2 linked regions of the Homo sapiens genome follow. The protein of the gene in region 1 interacts with the protein of each later gene in a biochemical or structural test. Each region holds a gene or a part of one and is shown on either strand. Other genes may lie near its edges.

Region 1 (3,500 bases):
TCATACTAAGAATGTGCTATTCTATTGTTAGTTAGGGGCTTACGTACTCAGAAATTGTCTTACCTCGTGAGTTACAGTATAGGTGTGGTAAGATTTGCTTTCAAGAGCCAGTTTTAGTATAACTTAGTTGTCTTTTTTATTTTTACTTGATTAAAAGAAAAATGTAAAAGACTTAACTGGATAACAGATCAAAACTTTTTATTAATATTTTTATCCTCTGAATATTTCTCGATAACTTTTGTTTCACTTTAGGTGAACTCCAGAAAGCCATTGACTTATTCACAGATGCCATCAAGCTGAATCCTCGCTTGGCCATTTTGTATGCCAAGAGGGCCAGGTGAGAACTCTAAACAGAAAAGCATCCCCTGGCAAATAATTTCTGCACATTTGTTTAAATAGAGTTGCTTCTGTGTTGATCCCAAAACTTTTACTGAAATGAATACTTTTTAATAACACACTTATTTTTCAGTGTCTTCGTCAAATTACAGAAGCCAAATGCTGCCATCCGAGACTGTGACAGAGCCATTGAAATAAATCCTGATTCAGCTCAGCCTTACAAGTGGCGGGGGAAAGCACACAGGTAAATAATTGAATTTAATTATTTTCAGAACTCTTTACATTTAAATCTGATGTTTTAAGATGCTTTGTTTAAACAAAAACACAAAAGTTCCTAATGACTTAATTTTCAAATTAGTGTGTACTTAGTATCAAGAAGTGAGATAGCTTGTAGACAGCTGCTTAAAAGGTAAAAGAAAAAAAAAAGAAATTTAAAAGAAGAAGTGAGAATATAGGAAGGAAGAAATAAAAAGTATTTTCATTTTTTTCATTCAAATAAAGCTACTCTTACCAGTTTTTGACTACATATGGCCAAATATAAGGAAAGGATTTTTACTTAAAATTAATTCCAGGAAAAGAAAGAATGATCTTTTATCAGTGTCCTTACAAATTTTCTCTTACTTTCAGACTCTGTAAGTTAGCATTGAACTACCAGTGTATTATAGAAGAAGGAGTATGCCAGCCTGAAACTACTTCAGTCACTGCTAGGCCACCTGAAAAATTAGGAGAAGGCGGGGGGGCATAAAGAGGTGAATTTAACCCAGATTAGTAATTATACCTTGCAGCAAAACTTAGGAATATTTGTATCTTGGGAATGAAGTGTTCAGTGACTTTCACATGTTACCTGGGTTGAAAGGGCTCAAATGTGGATGGAGATAAAGATGGATATGTTTTTAGGACAACTGTATTAGCTGACTCAGAGTAGCTCTAGTGGATTTTATGACACATGTTAAAGATAAACATTAAAAGTTGAAATAAAATTTATTAATGCTGTGTCAGCACAGGAAAAGCCCATGCATTGCTGTTGATCCTTTTGAAATCCCATTAGTCCAAGTATTTCTTTGCCTTCTAATACAAGACAGCGTTGGCTCATCTTGTGCTTTGCTTGTCTCAGACTGAAAATAAGCTATTTCTGTGGGAAATCGTGGTTCATTATAGCGGAAACTAAGATTTGATCACTGTGTCTGTTCATTGCTTCTGGTATGTACTGTCGTTTCAATGAACAGCTAGAAAAAAACATTTTAAAAATCATGAATTTAGGGAAAAAATTCTTGAAATTGTGAGTTTATACTGATATTTTCTATTAAAATGTAACATTAAATGTTTTGTTTTACCTTTTAGTTTGTATTTTTGACACTTGTGTGGTAAAAATTTTTGTCCTAGTTTTACATTTACTTACTACAATGCTGTGATATACATAAAACTGTTTCAGAATTACAATACCTTAAAAACAGTATACACTCTAAGTAAAGTTTGAAGGTTTTTTGGGAAGTTTTTGTTTTGCTTTGTCTTTTGTTTCTACACAGAGTCTCACTCTGTTGCCCAGGCTGGAGTGCAGTGGTGCGATCTAGGCTCACTGCAACCTTCACCTCCCAGGTTCAAGTGATTATCCTGCCTCAGTCAGCCTTCTGAGTAGCTGGGATTACTTACAGTCGCGCCCCACCATGCCCAGCTAATGTTTTGTATTTTTGGTAGAGAGGGGGTTTCGCCTATTAGCCAGGCTATTCTCAAACTCCTGGCCTCAAGTGATCTGCCCTCCTTCCCCTCCCAAAGCATTGGGATTACAGGTGTGACCCAAGGATGTTCTTATTCTTAGAATATATATCCCACTTGAAATATACAGTCAAGATAACTATGAAAAGTTACTTGAATTCATTTTTTTCTGTGTAGCTTATGTTGTTAATGCAATACACAGTGTTTTGTTTTGTTTTGTTTTGTTTTGAGGCATTTTGCTCCTTCACCCAGGCTGGAGTGAAGTGGTGCAATCTTGGCTCACTGCACCCGCCCCGGGCTCAAGCGGTTCTCCTGCCTCAGCCTCCCAAGTAGCTGGGATTACAGGTGTGCGCTACCATGTGTGGCAAATTTTTTATATTAGAGATGGGGTTTTGCCACATTGGCCAGGCTGGTCTTGAACTCCTGACCTCAGGTGATCCACCAGCCTCAGCCTCCCAAAGTGCTAGGATAATAGGCATGAGCCATCGCGCCTAGCCACACCTTATTTCTTTTTTTTTTTTTTTTTGAGATGGAGTCTTCCTCTGTCACCCAGGCTAGAGTGCAGTGGCGCGATCTTGGCTCACTGCAAGCTCTGCCTCCTGGGTTCATGCCATTCTCCTGCCTCAGCCTCCTGAGTAGCTGGGACTACAGGCGCCTGCCACCGCGCCTGGTTTTTTGTATTTTTAGTAGAGATGGGGTTTCACCGGGTTAGCCAGGATGGTCTTGATCTCCTGACCTCGCGTTCTGCCCGCCTCGGCCTCCCAAAGTGCTGGGATTACAGACGTGAGCCACCGCGCCCAGCCACACAGCTTCTTATTTCTGTTTGTATTCAGGTTTAGGATTTGCTTTATTTCCATTTTTCTGATTTTATTTTTTGAGTATGTAAAGCATTTAAATGTTCGAAGAGTTACACCTGAGTTAAAAGGTATACCCAGTGAATTCTCAGTTTTCGTTGCTGTCTCCTCTGCCCCATTCTCACCTACTGTCACCAACCTTTAGTTTCTGGTTTACTTGTTCTGAGTTTTTCGTAAAGCCTGTACACATGTATTATTTTCTCTTCTGTCTTACATAGAAGGTAGCTAAAAGCTAACACATTATGTTAGTCCTGGTTTGGGCGAGTTGAAAGTTACTGGTCTACATACTTAGAAAATTACGATATTCTGAATTAAGAAAGATTTTGTTTGTTTTTTAGCTTTTAGTAGAAAAGCAGCTTTAAATAGAGGAAATTTAAATGTTTTCAGGTTTTTATAGAGTTAACTAAAATGGGATATAGTAATTGAATTGGTTAGTGAAAGTTTATAGTTAATATTTAACTTAAGCCTGTTTTAGAACAATCCTTTTTTGTAAGGAAGAAAGATATCATGCCACATAGGTGAATATGTATAAAAGGCTCCTAAAATGAGTGTAAATCTGTTTCAGACTTCTAGGCCACTGGGAAGAAGCAGCCCATG
Region 2 (3,794 bases), on another chromosome or scaffold:
ATCAATCAATCAATCTTTGAACTAGTGATTTGAGATTTCACCTTTATCACATTCTAGATTGTATCTTATTTTCATTTATTTATTTGAAATATAGACAAGTCTCCCTGTGCTGCCCAGGCTGATTTCAAACTCCTGGCTGGGCTCGAGCAAGTCTCCCGCCTTGGCCTCCCAAACTGCTGGGATTACAGACGTGAGCCACCATACCTGACCTAGGTTTTATTTTTTAGTTTTATTTTTTCCTGCATCCAGCTAATTTGATTTGATTTGTAGAGACGGGGTCTTGCTATGTTACCTAGGCTGGTCTCGAACTCCTGGGCTCAAGTGATCCTCCTGCCTTGGCCTCCCAAAGTGTTGGGATTACCAGCATGAGCCACGGTGCCCAGCCCCACGTTCTAGATTTCTATGGATAGAGTATGCTTAAGGATGAGTATGTTTCTGGATGTTCGACTCGGCTTTCCTGGTCTGTTGTCTGTCTGTGTACAGCGTCACATTGTTTTAATGATAGAGGCTTTAGCGTACATAGCTGGGAAGGCTAATGTTCTCTTTTAGTTTTTCTTTCCAGTGGTTTCCTGGCAATTCTTGCATGTTTGTTTTTCCATATGAACTTTAGTGTCAACATGCCTAGGTCTATAAAAAAGCTTGGTGGTAATTTTATTGGGATTATGACACTTCAACAAATTAACTGGGAGAATGGACATATTTTTGATGTTGAGTCATTTTATCCAAGGATAAGAAACGTTTTCCTATTTGCTCAAGTCTATTATTGTATCTTTCTTGACTGCTGCAATGTATTCTCTTATAATTTTTTCTATTGGTATCTTATTTTATGTATTTGTAATATCTTATTTTTCTTGAGTAAATTAGTTAATGGCTTGCCGGTTTTCTCAAAACAAATATCTAGGGATTTGATTTATGAAATTATTAGGCCTATTATTTTTCTTTTTTTTGAGATGGAGTCTCACTCTGTCGCCCAGGCTGGAGTGCAGTGGCGTGATCTCAGCTCACTGCAACCTCCACCTCCTGGGTTCAAGTGATTCTCCTGCCTCAGCCTCCCCAGTAGCTGGGGTTACAGGTGCACGCCACCATGCCCGGCTAATTTTTTTATATTTTTAGTAGAGACGGGGTTTCACCATGTTAGCCAGGCTGGTCTCGAACTCCTGACCTCATGATCCGACTGCCTCAGCCTCCCAAAGTGCTGGGATTACAGGTGTGAGCCACCGTGCCTGGCCTTTTTTTTTTTTTTTTTGAGACAGAGTCTTGCTCTGTCACCCAGGCTGGAGTGCAGTGGTGCGATCTCGGCTCACTGAAAGCTCCACCTCCCGGGTTCACGCCATCCTCCTGCCTCAGCCTCCCGAGTAGCTGGGACTACAGGTGTACACTGCCACGCCCAGCTAATTTTTTGTATTTAGTAGAGACAGGGTTTCACCGCGTTCGCCAGGATGGTCTCGATCTCCTGACCTTGTGATCCGCCTGCCTCAGCCTCCCAAAGTGCTGGTATTACGGGCGTGAGCCACTGCGCCCGGCCAGGCCTATTATTTTTCTATTGTGGTTCATTAATTTCTGCTTTTTTCTCTTAAAAAGTTTGCTTACGTTTTTGTCTGGTTTACTTTGCTGTTCTCTTGCTAGCTTTTTTTTTTTTCAGATAGGGTCTTGCTCTGTTGCCCAGGCTGGAGTGCAGTGGCACAGTCATAGCTCACTGCAGCCTTGAACTCCTGGGCTCAAGCAATCCTCTTCTTGCTTCAGCCTCCCACGTAGCTAGGATCAGAGGTACATGCCACCATGTCCGGCTAATTTTTTTTTTTCGAGACAGAGTCTTGTTCTGTCGCTCAGGCGGTAGTGCAGTGGTGCAATCCCGGCTCACTGCAACCTCCACCTCCACCTCCCAGGTTCAAGCAATTCTACCTCAGTCTCCTGAGTAGCTGGGATTATAGGCGCACACCAACATGTCTGGCTAATTTTTGTATTTTTAGTAGAGACAGGGTTTCACCACGTTGGCCAGGCTGGTCTTAAACTCCTGACTTCATGATCCGCCCGCCTTGGCCTCCCAAAGTGCTGAGATTACAGGTGTGAGCCACAGCACCTAGTGAAGGTGTGGTTTTTTTGTGTAGGTTTTACTGTTGTTAGTGTTGTTCTGTATTGTTTGTAGAGGATACGTGGGGAGATTTGGATAAAAGCAACTATCATTATTATCCTCATCAGACTTGTAGGTCTAACTTTTTAATTTTTTAATTTTTAATTTAAATTTTTTTCTTGGTCTTTTATCATTAATTAATTTTTTCGAGACAGGGTCTCACTCTGTTGCCCAGGCTGGAGTGTGGTGACATGATCACGGCTCACTGCAGCCTTAACCTCCCAGGCGCAAGTGATCCTCCTCTCTTAGCCTCCCGAGTAGCTGGGACTCCAGGCATGTGCCACCATGCCCAGCTAATTTTTTGTAGAGAGAGGGTTTTGCCATATTGCCCAGGCTGGTCTTGAACTGCTGAGCTCAAGTGATCCACCCGGCTTGGGCATGAGCCACCTCCCCTGGTCTGGTCCAACTTTTTAAAAGCATTATTCTGCCTGTTGGGTGGAGAATAGACTGTAGGTGGGCAAAGAATGAAGGAAACTAGTGGGTTCAGGAGCTCGAGCTAGAAGTGGTGAGAAGGGTTTGGATTTGGGGTCTATGCTGAAGGTAGAGCCGACAAGATTTGCTAGGATTGGATGGGTAGGGTGAGGAAGTGGGGACAGCAAGAATGACTGGAGGGGTAAGTGGACTCTCACCAGCTGTGTCTCGTGAAGGGGCGTGGCTGGGCTATGAGCTATGCTCCTGAGCACAGACGGCTGTTCTCTTTCAAGGTTACAAGCCTGATGAAGGGAAACGAGGGGATGCCTGTGAAGGTGACAGTGGGGGACCCTTTGTCATGAAGGTAAGCTTCTCTAAAGCCCAGGGCCTGGTGAACACATCTTCTGGGGGTGGGGAGAAACTCTAGTATCTAGAAACAGTTGCCTGGCAGGGGAATACTGATGTGACCTTGAACTTGACTCTATTGGAAACCTCATCTTTCTTCTTCAGAGCCCCTTTAACAACCGCTGGTATCAAATGGGCATCGTCTCATGGGGTGAAGGCTGTGACCGGGATGGGAAATATGGCTTCTACACACATGTGTTCCGCCTGAAGAAGTGGATACAGAAGGTCATTGATCAGTTTGGAGAGTAGGGGGCCACTCATATTCTGGGCTCCTGGAACCAATCCCGTGAAAGAATTATTTTTGTGTTTCTAAAACTATGGTTCCCAATAAAAGTGACTCTCAGCGAGCCTCAATGCTCCCAGTGCTATTCATGGGCAGCTCTCTGGGCTCAGGAAGAGCCAGTAATACTACTGGATAAAGAAGACTTAAGAATCCACCACCTGGTGCACGCTGGTAGTCCGAGCACTCGGGAGGCTGAGGTGGGAGGATCGCTTGAGCCCAGGAGGTGGAGGCTGCAGTGAGCCACTGCACCCCAGCCTGGGTGACAGAGTGAGACCCTGTCCCAAAAGAATCCACTATCTATCTTCAGAGCAGGGCCAGGTGAGAGGAAAGATGGCAGGTTGAATTTACAGGCATTAAAGATGTTCCACCCTCTGGGTTTTAATGGATTATCTCATTTAATCCTCACAAGAGGTAGGTGAGTAAACTGAGATTTGGAGAAGTACCTTGTCCAAAGTCACATGGCTAAGAAAGCTCAAAGTAGGACTTCAAATATAGAAAATATTGAGTGAGGACGGTGCTTTTTTAGTTAACTCCCTACATCTTCCCTTGTATCATTAAAATGAT

Evidence for each region. The genes of interacting proteins can lie anywhere in the genome.
Region 2: of the proteins of ST13 (region 1) and F2, one has a biochemical effect on the other in vitro, tested with the Homo sapiens proteins (one study listed by BioGRID).

What each region holds. Positions count from the first base shown.
Region 1 is NC_000022.11:40,832,640-40,836,139, reverse strand, and holds part of ST13 (hsc70-interacting protein), read left to right. Parts: intron 1-252; coding exon 253-337; intron 338-469; coding exon 470-580; intron 581-3,468; coding exon 3,469-3,500. UniProt on the Homo sapiens protein: One HIP oligomer binds the ATPase domains of at least two HSC70 molecules dependent on activation of the HSC70 ATPase by HSP40. Stabilizes the ADP state of HSC70 that has a high affinity for substrate protein.
Region 2 is NC_000011.10:46,736,213-46,740,006, forward strand, and holds the end of F2 (prothrombin preproprotein), read left to right. Parts: intron 1-2,835; coding exon 2,836-2,906; intron 2,907-3,052; coding exon 3,053-3,196; 3' UTR 3,197-3,294; downstream 3,295-3,794. UniProt on the Homo sapiens protein: Thrombin, which cleaves bonds after Arg and Lys, converts fibrinogen to fibrin and activates factors V, VII, VIII, XIII, and, in complex with thrombomodulin, protein C. Functions in blood homeostasis, inflammation and wound healing.